2 linked regions of the Homo sapiens genome follow. The protein of the gene in region 1 interacts with the protein of each later gene in a pairwise test. Each region holds a gene or a part of one and is shown in the gene's direction. Other genes may lie near its edges.

Region 1 (7,030 bases):
GGGTTCACGCCATTCTCCTGCCTCAGCCTCCCGAGTAGCTGGGACTACAGGCGCCCGCCACCGCGCCCGGCTAATTTTTTGTATTTTTAGTAGAGACGGGGTTTCACCTTGTTAGCCAGGATGGTCTCGATCTCCTGACCTCATGATCCACCCGCCTCGGCCTCCCAAAGTGCTGGGATTACAGGCGTGAGCCACCGTGCCCGGCCGACTTTCCACAGTTTAGAAGCTGTGTAACTAGGCAGGCCCAACTGCTTTAAGTTTCAGTTACCCCCTCTATGAAATAAATAATAATAATAATAATAATATACTAGTTCAAAGGCAGGGAACTGGGCCAGGTGATCACCTGAAGTTTTCTTTGGCTCTGTAATGCATGTTGCTAATAAGTGTCCAGTCCACCTAGGATCTGTTCTCTCCTAAATTCTTCCATTTTTGAGAATTGCTGTCCCCAACAAAATTATGCAAATTCAATACATTTTATTGTATTTTATCACAGATTCACTCTAAATTTGTGTCTCTTTTCTGTGTCCCCCAGTACCAAAGCAAAATGGCAACTTCCTTATTTTTCTTCCAGCTTATTGTTTTGCTCTTCCTTCCTGATTGTGAACAACCATATATCTTACAGAATAAAACACATGCATACTCTGTGTATTGCTGTGCCTGAGCCTATTGAAGGAATTAAATAGAGATGCATGGAATGTTTGGGCCAAAGAGCTCTGATGTTTTTATTTTATCCTCTTGCATGGAAAGAGTATTCAGAATTTTCAGAATTCATCAAGCCGTCAGGCTGCATGGTTAGGCACTTTTGCACTGCCCTTAATGTGATTGATCAAGGCCACTATTTCCACACTTCACAGCCACTTTCCTCTTTTCCTCTTACTCATCTCCTAACTAGGGGTTCACAGGCATTTGCCTACAGAGAAGTACACTGAGAAAACCTTAAAATGGTGGTTCCCATAAGAATGTAATAGAAAAACAACAATGTTATATTCTTGGAGTTGTTGCCATTTTTCATTGAGTTTTATCTTTAATTTAGCTTCATATTAGCCATGTTTGTTTTAATTAGTGGGTATATATGACTGTTAATATCTTTTGGGGTTTAATCACCTTAAAGTGATAGCAAGCAGGAAGGCAGGGTGAAGTACATCCTAAGATTTGCATTAAAAAATTATTAACTATTGTCAGATCTAATTATGGGCAGCAATGATGGAATTTCATGCTTTCTGAGCATAATGTATACATGTTCAGATTAATACTCTCATGTGTGAAATAGGACTGAATTCGTAAAAACAAATGGTTTTAAAATCTGGCTGATACATTTCTAAGTGTTTAGAACAACTTGAATCAGTGCGCAGGGCTGTCAAGTATGAGTTTGGTATTGAGTTACTGCAGTTCAACCAGGAAAATTGATACAATTCCTAGAATGGTAAAGATGCTTAAAAAAATCTATACTTCAGTTTTCTTACTATATTAATGGGCCATACAGTACCTGCCTTCTATGTGACCGTAGAAACAGTGTTAAAAATCCATAAGGCGCTTTGAGAACTTTGAAAAGTAGGCTTCATAAGCATAGCAACTGTCATTTCTAAACCTAAACCTTTAGAATTTATAAGTAATTTCAGATCTGTATATAAAGATTATTTACACAGGCAATGCCTGGACAATAATTTGATCATATCTACGTAAATTTGACAAGCGACAAAACTGGAATTTAATCCTTAGTTGAAATTGCTACCTTAATAACCCCTCTGTTTTTTGACCAAAAAGCTTTTTTTGTCAGGTGAACTGCCAAGCTAAGACATTTCTGAGGTCAGTACTTCATTTGGATTGTAACTCTATCTTCTCTTTCTTTCTAGGCCATGGCTGTTATCTTCTCAAATTTTAGCATTATAACAACAGCTCTTCTATTCAGGATAGTGCTGAAGTAAGTAACTTGCTGTGAAAACATATATCATACTTTAAAATAACATAGCCCGGTTTCAAATGATATACCCAGAACACTGAGCCGTCAGAATCCCAAAGCCAGGATTTTGTTCCTAATTGACTTTGTGTACTGGGCACGTTTAAGCCATGTAGAAAGCAGCTCCAGTGCTAGTCCATCTAAATCCTCTGTGATCAGATGAATGAAAATGTCTTGAGCATCTTAAAAATAAGATAATTGACTGTGTTATAATTAGTATTTTCATATTTAGTGCCAGATTTTCAACAAAGAATTAATGAGCTTTTTATGCAAAATCTTTCTGCACTAATAGGGAAGCAAATGGTTCCTAAGATTGTTAATATATTTGTAATTTGTAGTTTGGAGATGATAGATAATGGCCAATTTTTTATTAAACTATTTGAGATGAGGACGTGATTTAAGCACTAATTAGCAGAGTGTGTGAAGAATCTAGTCAAAATTATAGTTAAGAAGGATAGTTTTTTAAACTTTTAAAAATGTTATCACCAGTTTTTACTATCTCCAAGAGGACCGTTGAATAGTATAAACATTTTTAAGTAAATTAAGCTCTCTTCAAAGCAAAAGCCAGAGTGTCCTAAGGCAGGAAGATGATACAGGATCTGGATACTTAACTTCAGTTTAATTTCTTACTTAATGATAATGATTAAAAAATAAAATTAATTTCTTATTAGATTTGTTTTTTTTAAATTTTACATTATCTTTTTGATTTATTGATTCTCAGTGTGCTGTGTGATAGTATGTTCTTTCATAATTTGTGTATATGAAAGGGTGACTGGCTTGGTACAAAGATTTAATTTGTTGAGTCCATGATATACTTAATATATAAATTATATAAGATTCCTGATGTATTTTCTTTTACCCTGAGGAAACATTTAATTTGATAGTTAATGTGAGAGATAAGGAAAAAGTGAACATTACATTTAGCCCAGTTTAAATGTTAGAGTACATCGAAGTTTGTTCTACGTATCTGTCAATTTATTTGTGAATTGTGAAAATAATTCTTTAACTAAAAAAAAGATATTCCAAAAACATTTTGAAGTCTTTGAAATCAGTTTGAATCTCACTTTGTAGTATAAAAAGTTGACTTTTGAGAAAAGGTAAGCAAGCAATAATATTTGTATATTGATTCCTGTGATAGATTAGCGATGTACTTCTGTGAAGATAAAATGGTTCCAAGACCATTTCCATATTCCAAGATGATAAAAGGATCACGATTTAATAAGGGAGTACAGGTCTCAAAAACATGTATTTTTAAAGTGTTTGTCATTTACTTTAAATGAGTACAGATGGTATTATACTGAAGTTGTATAATATAAAAATATTACATCAAAATTACATCAATTTCAAACTGAATTTACTAAAGACTAAAAGTATGTATTGCCTGACTTGAAATTGGCCAGTAGCTTTAGTCCTATCCTATAATAAGTATTCCTTGTTAAATTTTTAAGCATTTAACTATTTGTATTAAGAAAGTTCATTCTAAGTTTAAATCTAAATCTATTTATACTATACATTTTAAATATTTGCTTTTAATACTAGTTATAATATTGATTGCATTTTGCTAATTTTAATAATAACTAACACTGGTATGAATTAAAGTTCAAAAAAAATTTCTACATACTTTCTTATTTTCAGAGGAATAATAATGATTCTTAGACATATATTTGCTTTGTTGTTAACATCTCTCTGTTTTGAGTCCTTGGAAAATAACGTGCTAATAATCTAATATTGTCTTTTATGAGAATGCCTTTTAAGTATTTTATTACTTTTTTTTTTTTTTTTTTTGAGACAGAGTCTTACTCTGTCACCCAGGCTGGAGTGCAGTGGCACCGTCTTGGCTCATTGCAACCTCCTCTTCCCGTCTTCAAGCAATTCTTGTTCCTCAGCCTCCCAAGTAGCTGGGAATATAGGTGCACACCACCACGCCCAGCTAATTTTTGTATTTTTAGTAGAGACAGAGTTTCACCATTTTGGCCAGGCTGGCCTCAAACTCCTGACCTCAGGTGATCTGCCCACCTTGGCCTCCCAAAGTGCTGGGATTACAGGTGTGAGCCACTACGCCTGGCCTTATTACATTTTTTAACTCTTTTTTCTAATTGTGAAAAAAAGAAAAAAAATTTGCCATCTTAATTTTTTTTTTTGGCAGTGGGGGTGGGTACGGAGTCTTGCTCTGTCGCCAGGCTGGAGTGCAGGGTTGCAATCTCAGCTCACTGCAACCTCCGCCTCCTGGGTTCAAGTGATTCCCCTGCCTCAGCCTCCCCAGTAGCTGGTGTTACAGGCACGTGCCACCACGCCTGGCTAATTTTTTGTATTTTAGTAGAGACAGGGTTTCACCTGTTGGCCAAGATGGTGTTGATCTCCTGACCTTGTGATCCACCTGCCTTGGCCTCTCAAAGTGTTGGGATTACAGGCGTGAGCCACCGCGTCCAGCCCATCTTAACAATTTTTAAGCATACAGTTTAGTAGTGTTAAGTCTATTCATGTTGTGAAGTAGATGTTGAACTCTTTCACCTTACAAATTTGAAACTCTAAGTCCATTAAACAACTCTCCTTTCCCCGCCTCACCCTAACCCCTGATAACTACCATTTCACTCTCTTTTTTTCTTTGAATTTGACTACTTTAGATTCCTCATATGAATAGAATCATACAGTATTTGTCTTTTGGGACTGGCTTATTTCACTTAGCTTAGCATATTGTCTTCACGGTTCATCCATGTAGCATGTGACAGGATTTCCTTCCAATTTTTAAAGCTGAAAAATATCTCATTGATGTATGTGCTTTTATTACATTTTGAAGTCAACTTAACTTTGTTCTATTTTGATCTTTTTGGAGTTGGTGGTGTGCATTGGTTTTCCCTATTTAATTTACTCTTTGTGAATCATTTGATGGTCTTTTTGCCCTTTGTGATTAAATTTTGACCTAGGAGTAGCAGCTTAATAGTTCTATCACATATTCTTTGTTTGCCACTTTTCATTTAGAATATTAAATCTGTTGTCTTATACTTGATTGTATCAGAACTATCAAATACCTTTCCCATACAGGTAAAGAATACAAGGCTACAAAATAAAATAGAATAATTTTTAAAAAAAATTTTTTAAGAAAAAAAAAAATAATTTTTAAAAATTCTTAAAAAGAATATGAGGCTACAAAAGCAGGCAAAAGTAAGTCTGGTAACTACTGCAGGGATTACTTGGAGGAATTTGAAAGTGGGAAAAAAAATATTATCATCTAAATGTCCTATTGTCTTTTCTAAAAAGAATAAAATACCTAAAGGCATTCTCATAAAAGACAATATTAGATTATTAGCATGTTATTTTCCAAGGATTCAAACTTTATGTGAATGTATAGATTTGTTCTTTGAAGTATAAGCCACAATATTAGATTATTAGCATGTTATTTTCCAAGGATTCAAACTTTATGTGAATGTATAGATTTGTTCTTTGAAGTATAAGCCACTGGTTCATGGTAGAAACTGGTAGCAGGCATTATGCCTTGTAGCTTGCTTCCCTGGTTTGCTTGTAACCTAAGCAAAGTTGCACAATTTTGTTTGCTTTAGCTTTGGGAAATAATACCAACCTAAACATTGAGATTGGAGGCAAAGGATAACCAAGACCAGCACTTATTTTTACCTAAAAAATGTATATAAGTTTCTCTGATTTCCTCAAAGAGAAGGTATGGAAAAAAATTATTTAAAAATACATTTTGAAACATGGTGGATGTCTAGGAAGTAAGGGTAAAGTTTAGTTACTGTCTGAAACAGCAGAAGAACAAAGAGAAGTGCCACTCAGTAGTAGTACAAGCATTTCTCCAGAATCATTCATTCAGTTGATAAATTTTCTCTGTGACTTCTCATTATAAATCTGCCCCTTGTCACTCTCTTTGTGCTACTAAGAAATGTGTTTTGTACAGTTTCTTGAGAAAACAATTATGTGAGTCTTTCCATTTAATTGTCTTCATACCCTGCACTAGTTTACTACCACCAAATATAGAAGTGCTCTTATCTGACACAATTTGAACCTATTGGTTAGTTGCTAGGAAAACTTATAGTGATGAATCATATACATAAGTATATATAGAAAATATCTAAACAATTTATTTTAACTTAGAATATGTAAATATACATGTATTCATCATTCTTCTAATGTTGAACTAAAGCCCCCCCTTTGAGTATGTTACTGATTGAAGTTCCTTAGCTCACCTATATGTTATTAGAAAACAGCTTTTTATCTTCTGAATGATTTACCTTCACTTAGTCTTCCCAAAGTGTTCAACTTAGTTTTCATAAAAACAGCTTCTTGTCTTTTACTCATAGTTTATCATTTATGTAATCTTTATGTAGTGACAACAGTGAGGTCACCTGGCAAAAACATGTTTAGGAACAGAGATTCTGTGGGCAAACAATTCACTTGGGAGGAGAGGCCCTCAGGAAGAGTAGCCTTCTAGCCACAGGCATTCGGCTCTGAGCATCCATTACTATGTTTTACCGAGGCAGTGGAGAGATGAGTGAAGTGAGCTTCCACTGTTTTGTATCAGTTAAACTGAAGAACAAATTGGGCCTAGCAGACTCAGTTGTCATTTCAGATTGTCAGCTGACTTTACAGGGTAATTTATTAAGCTTTATTTTCTTTCCTAAAAATCTACCATTTTTAATTTTTAGCTTAATCCTTAATAAATTTTACGTTCCTTAGAGCATTACCTTGAATGAGTAATTGTTTACAGAAGGTGTTGTTTAGCTTAAGGATTTCTTTCTTTTTTCTTAATATTAGTGAAAAATGTATAGCTCTAGAAAACTTTTAAAGGAACTATAGATTATATCATTGCCTCACTTATATGCGATTTGCAATAATTAATTATGGAATTTTTTTTGTAAAATGGACACCCATTTTTTATCTCTGTGGTCATTCTATTTGTTTTCTGCTACTTAATGTGTATCAGCTGCACCTTCAGAAATTTAAGTGGTTAGTTCACAGTTTCTCACCTGATGGCATAAGGCTGCGCTAACGCCATCAGTAAGTTCTAGATCAGGCTATTTGAAAATTACATACATATGAGAAAGCATATAATAGTGTGCA
Region 2 (7,030 bases), about 67 Mb from region 1:
GGTGTGAGCTCAGCTCACTGCAGCCTCAGCCTCCCAGGCTCAAGTGATCCTCTCACCTCAGCCCCCAAAGCATCTGGGACTACAGGTGCACATCACCATGTCTGGCTGATTTTTTCTGTTTTTCAGTTTCGCCATGTTGCTGAAACTTGAACTCCTCGTCTTAAGTGATCCATGCACCCTGGCCTCCCAAAGTGCTGGAATTACTGGCATGAGCCACCATGCCTGGCCCAAAGAGAGTTTAGATGAAGTACTTAGTGTACCTCATAGGTACCTTCTTTGAGAAATGTTTTCTTTCCATGTCTTTTCCTTCACTGAGTTCTGGTAACAGTTTTTAAAGCCAAAAATGAAAAATTATTGTAACAGGGTTAGACACCAAATGTTTACATGATTTATGTATTCTGTCTCTTAGGATCAGTTTACAGTGCATTTACTTTCTCATGGACAAGAGGATGGAAAGCTAGAATGGTCAATCCATAGTACTGTTTGAACCACTCATTTTGTCACTTAGAAATGAAATCATTATGTACACCGTTATGTGACTCTTACTGACAGAGATACATTCTGAGAAATATGTTAGAAATATGTTAGGCAACTTCTTTGTACAAACATCAGAGTATAATTACACAAACCTAGATGGTACAGCCTACTACACACCTAGGCTATATGGAATAGCCAGTTGTTCCTAGGCTACAAACCTGTACAGCAGGTTACTGTACTGAATACTGTAGGCAGTTGCAACACAATGGTAAAGATTTGTGTATGTATACATACATAAACAAGAAAAGGTACAGTAAATATACGGTATTATAAGCTTATAGGACCACCATCATATGTGTAGTCTGTCGTTGACCAAAGCATTGTTACATGGCACATGGCTGTACTTTGTTTCTCCAACCAGTTTACACCTTAACATTTTCTTCTCTAGTCCTCCTCAGTACCTAACATAGAGCCTTGTGCAGAGCAGCTCCTCAGTGAATCAACTGAGTAAATGAAAGGAACTTTCCAGTATAGACCACGTACTAGCACTGCAAAAAGAACACAGTCTAGGGTAATTTGGAATGTATCGTTTTGAAGAAACACAGCTTAAAAGTCATTTCATGTATATTGTCTTCCCAGTGTCTCTGTGAGGTCATAGGTTGATAGGTATCCTGTCATTGTTGAAAACAGTCTCATAATTGCCCTTGGCCACAAAGTCAGATCATACAGCCAAGCCATGGTAGAGCTAGCCTTGGAATACGGCTGGTCCAGAGTCCAGTGATCTTTCCATTTCATTGCATTATCCATATGACCTTTTTTTCTCTTACCAGATTGCTCTCGCATTAGTCCTCAGACATGCCAGGTATTGAAATGAGTCACTTACAACCAAATATAGTTGACATGTCCATATTAATTTCCATATGTTTAATGTGGAAAACAGAATATTGATTTGCTCAGAATTTAAAATTCATACTTTTTAAACTTCCAGGCAGTTCTAAATATCCTGTTAGGCTCCATTTTTCTTTTTAAGCCATTTGTATAGGCATGGATAATGTCAGACAGTGATAAATTTGAAATTGCAAAATAATTAGACTGGAAATGTAATTTTTAAGAAGCTTATCTATCCCTGTATATAAGCTAAAATACCTTGGCAGTTCGGCGTAGGTGTCACATTTCCTTTGCAGGGAAATGACATCAAATGTGGTTTGGGCACTTCTTAGGCCCCTCAGACCTCAAGCTCATAATAACTTTCTAAAAGGTTCAGTGGAAAGTTAGAGGTGCAAAATTATTGGATACATTTAAAGCATTTTTTCTTCTTTTTTTTTCTTTTTCTTTTAAAAGGTCAGTTGAAACTAGGTGTAAGGCAGGGAATCCTTTAGTTACTGCATCAGGCTGCAGCATGCCTCTGAAGAGTACTGTTTCCTCAGGAAATTGCCATTTTTAAAAGAGTCTCATAACTGTGAGGTCATCAGTCAGGGCAGATATGATCCAACCTTGAAAACAGATGTAACCTAAGCTACCTTGTGATACAGACACATATAATCTGTTCAATATAATGAACATTCATATTATTCACAGAAGTCTCCCGGTGGAGGGAAGGGTGTAGGGCAGCTCAGATTATTCTCATGAGTTTTAGCACAGACAATATGGGGTTTGTATCCAAAGCATTAGTTGGCTGGGAGTTCAGGCTAGTTCAGGCTTACCTAGGCTCACGTGGCTAGCCTAGGTTAGTGCTAGGCTACATCAAATGACTTGGTATGCTTGTTTTAAGTGCGTATTCCAGGGCCCCACATTAGGCCTACTGAGTGAAAATCTCTGGGGATGAGCGGTGGAAATCTGCAAGTTTAACTAGCTATCCTGGTAGTTTTTATGCACTCTGAAATATTTTAGGGCTGGGCATACATAGCTGAGTTAGGACCAGAACATGCTGGTAGAAGAGAATTCTTTGGAAGATATGGGGCTCTGGTAGATTGTGCTGTGGATTAGAGCTTCAGATTAGGTGGAATTTGGACCTAGTCCTGTGAAGAAGTCTGGTTGAGAGAATGGGTTTTAGGGCATTCAGGGAATAGGATATAGGTGGGAACACAGAGTTTTGAGAAAGAGGATAGCATTAGAATGAGTCTTTCTAGAAACACCAACTGGTTTGGAATTGGGTTGTGCCCCTGGGGAGTCTGTGATGAACTTGAGCTATAGGAGAGGCAACCAGGGAGGGCTCAGTGAGGAGATACCCAAAGGGAGGATGAATGGGGGAGGTAGGAGCACCTTCTGCCTATGAGTGTAGTATGTGCAGGGGATCCTTCTTTACTAAGTTGTTTTCTTTTTGCTCACCAAACCTAGTAAAGTGTTGTGCCTCTGTCTTTTCAACCAGAGATGTATTAAATTTGATCATTAAGACCTTGATTTAATTCTTTTTTTTTTTTGAGATGGGGTCTCACTCTGTTGCCCAGGCTGGAGTGCAGTGGCGCAGTCTCGGCTCACCACAACCACCACCTCCCAGGTTCAAGTGATTCTTGTGCCTCAGCCTCCCTTGTAGCTGGGACTACAGGCATGCACCACCAGGCCCGGCTAATTTTTGTATTGTTAGTAGAGACAGAGTTTCACCATGTTGGCCAGGCTGGTCTTGATCTCCTGACCTCAAGTGATCCACCTGCCTCGGCCTCCCAAAGTGTTGGGATTACAGGCATGAGCCACTGCACCCAGCCAAATTCTTTACGTAAGATTTTTGAGGGAATATGTTCTTGCTACAGTTTTATGACATATCACTGTGGCTCCTATGCAAAATAGTGGTTTCATTATTTTTAAAAATTGTGGTAAAATAAAACATTAAATTTACCATCTCAACCATTTTTAAGTATACAGTTCAGGGGCAATAAGCACATTCATGTTGTACAACCGTTATCACCATCCATCACCAGAACCGTTTTCATCTTGCAAAAATAAACTCTGTACCCATTAAACAACTCCCCATTTCTGTATCCTCCCAGCCCCTGGCAACCACCGTTCTACTTTCTGTCTCTATAAATTTGACTTCTCTAGATGCCTCATGAAGTGGCAGTATTTGTCCTTTTATGACTGGTTTATTTCACTTAGCATAATGTCCTTAAGGTTCATCCATTGTGTAGCATGTGTCAGAATTTCCTTTTTTTTTTTTTTTTTTGAGATGGAGTCTCGCTCTGTTGCCTATGCTGGAGTACAGTGGTGCGATCTCGGCCCACTGCAACCTCTGCCTCCTGGGTTCAAGCAATTCTCCTGCCTTAGCCTCCTAAGTAGCTGGGATTTCAGGTGCCTGCCACCACGCCCAGCTACTGTTTTGTATTTTTAGTAGAGACAAGGTTTCACTGCATTTGCCAGGATGGTCTCCATCTCCTGACCTCGTGATCCGCCTGCCTCGTCCTCCCTGAGTGTTGGGATTCCAGGCCTGAGCCACTGTGCCTGGCCCAGAATTTCCTTTCTAAGGCTGAATAATATTCCATTATATGTATGTACCACATTTCGTTTGTTCATTTGTTAATAGACACATAGGTGGCTTCCACCTTTTTGGCTATTGTGAGTAATGCCAGTATGAATGTGAGTATACAAATACCTTTTTGAAACCCTACTTTCAGTTATTTTGAGTATATACCCGGAAGTGGAATTGTTGGGTCATATGGGAATTCTATTTTTAATTTTTAATGGGCCACCATACTGTTTTCCCATAGTGGCTGCACCGTTTTACATTCCCACCCACAAAGCACCAGGATTCCAGTGTCTCCGCATCCTAGCCAACACTCGTTATTTTCTATCCTGGGTTTGTTTTTTTTTTCCTTCTAGATAATAGCCATTTTAATGGGTATGAGGTTGGTAAGTAGTAATGTTTTTGTAGTGGGCCAGTTTTACTCATTGATTTGACAGGATTTTAAAGAGATCAGTTGTCTGAAATAAGACGTGAATGTTACATGAGAGATAAATGTTTTCAGACACTAGAAAATCGCAATGCCAACACTGAAAGAAAATAAAAATATTTGATGTTAATATTATAATTAAAGATATTGCTTTTCTTAAAATTTAACAAGACTAATTTTTTAAAAAACACTCTTAAGAGCTGTTGAATCCCAGGTGACTATAAGATTAAATGCATTTGTATTAAGTGTAATACCAGAACTGCCTTTGTTGCATTTAGCTTTTAGTCCCAGTTCCACTTCTGGGATACTCAAAATAATTAAAAGTAAGGTCTCAAAGAGGGATTTGTATACCCCTGTTCATAGCAGCATTATTCACAACAGTCAAAAAGGAGGAAGCAACCTAAGTGTTGATTCTTTCTTTTTTTTTTATTTCAACATTTTTTGTAGAGATGAGATCTCGCTGTGTTGACCAGGCTGGTCTCAAACTCCTGGCCTCAAGATCCTCCTGCTTTGTTTTTCTTTTCTTTTCCTTTTTTTTTTTTTTTTTTTTTTTTTAAGACAGGCTCTTGCTCTGTTGCCCAGGCTGGAGTGTAGTGGTGCGATCTTGGCTCAGAGCAGCCTCTGCCTCCCAGGTTGAAGTGATCCTCCGACCTCAGCCTCCTGAATAGCTGAGGCCACAGGTGCATACCACCACACCTGGCTAATTTTTGCATTTTTTGTAGAAACGGGGTTTTGCCATGTTGCCCAGGCTGGTCTCAAACTCCTGGGCTCAAGCAGTCCTCCTGCCTCAGCCTCCCAAAGTGCTAGGATTACAGGCATGAGCACTGTATCCAACCACTTTTTCTTTTTTATGCCATGCTTGGACAGTAATCCTTAAAAGCAAAATGACGAACTGAATGAAGGTAGTCAAAATAGGAGCAATTATTATACAAGTATTATGCTATTTTGATATATCTTCCATAGTATGTGTCTTATTAATGGGAACCAGAACTCTGGGTAGGTATGGGATCCCCTTGTCTTGACAGATATTTGGTAGGATTCTTGTTCAGTTAGAGTTAATAGTGAATTGGAGGCTAATCACCTCACCAGATAGTTTATATAGGACCAGAACCCTTTTTAGTATACAGTATTACTTTGAACCTTAGAGATCTGTTATCAACAGTATAGATAATGACCAAATAATCTTCTTGGATCGAATCTTGTCTTCCGAAATCCATTTCATAAAATAAGTAATATGATAGCTTGTTTGGTAAAGATTTAAACACAAAAATAGCAATAAAACAATACACACCAGGAAAAATTATACCACTGAATGTTTACTTAATTGTTTTTGACGGTTTAAATGCTAGAGAGTTAAAGTTAATTTCACTGGCTTTTGAAATGAAGCCCAGGAAGCATAAAACATAGAATAAAATTTATTACATAAAACAATTATGCTTCAGATCAGTATTAAGACCAATACAAAAGTGGTGGGAAATGAGAGGAAGAGAACAGTAAGGGCATATATGTAGGTGCCGTGAGTTAGGATGATACCTGCTGTTATGGTTAACAGAATTGTGAGTCATTACTTCTAATGAGCATCCCTAGAAATGTTGATTCCCTGGCAGTCACTGTTCACATTTTCATTGCTCCAATTCTTAAGCCTAGAGATACCACTTTCAGTGACATTATCAGAATAGCCTGATGGCAGCATCAGCAATTTAGATTCCAACAGCATCTCTCAGAGAGAGAAGATCAAGCAAAGGCCTCAGGACTTTTGAGCGAGACATCTCTACCTTGATCCATAATTACTCTTATTTGTATACTTTGTTATAATACTTTTTTTTTTGAGACAAAGTCTCGCTCTTGTGCCCCAGGCTGGAGTGCGATGGCGCAATCTCTGCTCACTGCAACCTCCGCCTCCCAGGTTCAAGCGATTCTCCTGCCTCAGCCTCCTGAGTAGCTGGGATTACAGGCGCCTGCCACCATGCCTGGCTAATTTTTGTATTTTTAGTAGAGATAGGGTTTCACCATGTTGGCCAGGCTGGTCTTGACTGAACTCCTAACTTCACGGAGTCTTGCTCTGTCACCAGCCTAGAGTGCAGTGGCGTGATCTCAGCTCACTGCAACCTCCACCTCCTGGGTTCAAGCAAGCGATTCCCCTGTCTCAGCCTCCCGAGTAGCTGGGACTACAGGCACGTGCCACCGCACCCAGCTAATTTTTTTGTTTGTATTTTAGTAGAGACGGGTTTCACCATGTTGGCCAGGATGGTCTCGATCTCCTGACCTTGTGATCCACCCGCCTCGGCCTCCCAAAGTGCTGGGATTTTGCATGAGCCTCTGCGCCTGGCCTGTAATACAGTTTTTAAATCTTATTTTTATTTCAATCTTATGTATACGGTTTAAAAGTAAGTAGTATACAAAGCTTATAATAACAGAGGCATCTACTTTTTTAAGCAACTTCTGGTATTTTACTCCATATCTAGCGCACCAGCATGGCACATGTATACATATGTAACTAACCTGCACAATGTGCACATGTACCCTAAAACTTAAAGTATAATTAAAATAAATAAATAAATAAAAAAATAATAGTAGCAGTAATGGTAAAAATAAAAAAATAAAAAAATGCTCATATTAGGCTGGGCTCTGGTTTATGTAGCTGTGGTTCAAATGAAGCCTCATGGTGTATC

The links. Proteins that work in one complex are often made in the same cells at the same time.
Region 2: the proteins of SLC35A5 (region 1) and SACM1L interact in binary tests that used the Homo sapiens proteins (3 or more experiments, as listed by UniProt).

The regions. Positions count from the first base shown.
Region 1 is NC_000003.12:112,572,036-112,579,065, forward strand, and holds part of SLC35A5 (UDP-sugar transporter protein SLC35A5), read left to right. Parts: intron 1-1,853; coding exon 1,854-1,921; intron 1,922-7,030. UniProt on the Homo sapiens protein: Probable UDP-sugar:UMP transmembrane antiporter involved in UDP-alpha-D-glucuronate/UDP-GlcA, UDP-GlcNAc/UDP-N-acetyl-alpha-D-glucosamine and UDP-N-acetyl-alpha-D-galactosamine/UDP-GalNAc transport from the cytosol to the lumen of the Golgi.
Region 2 is NC_000003.12:45,692,382-45,699,411, forward strand, and holds part of SACM1L (phosphatidylinositol-3-phosphatase SAC1), read left to right. Parts: intron 1-7,030.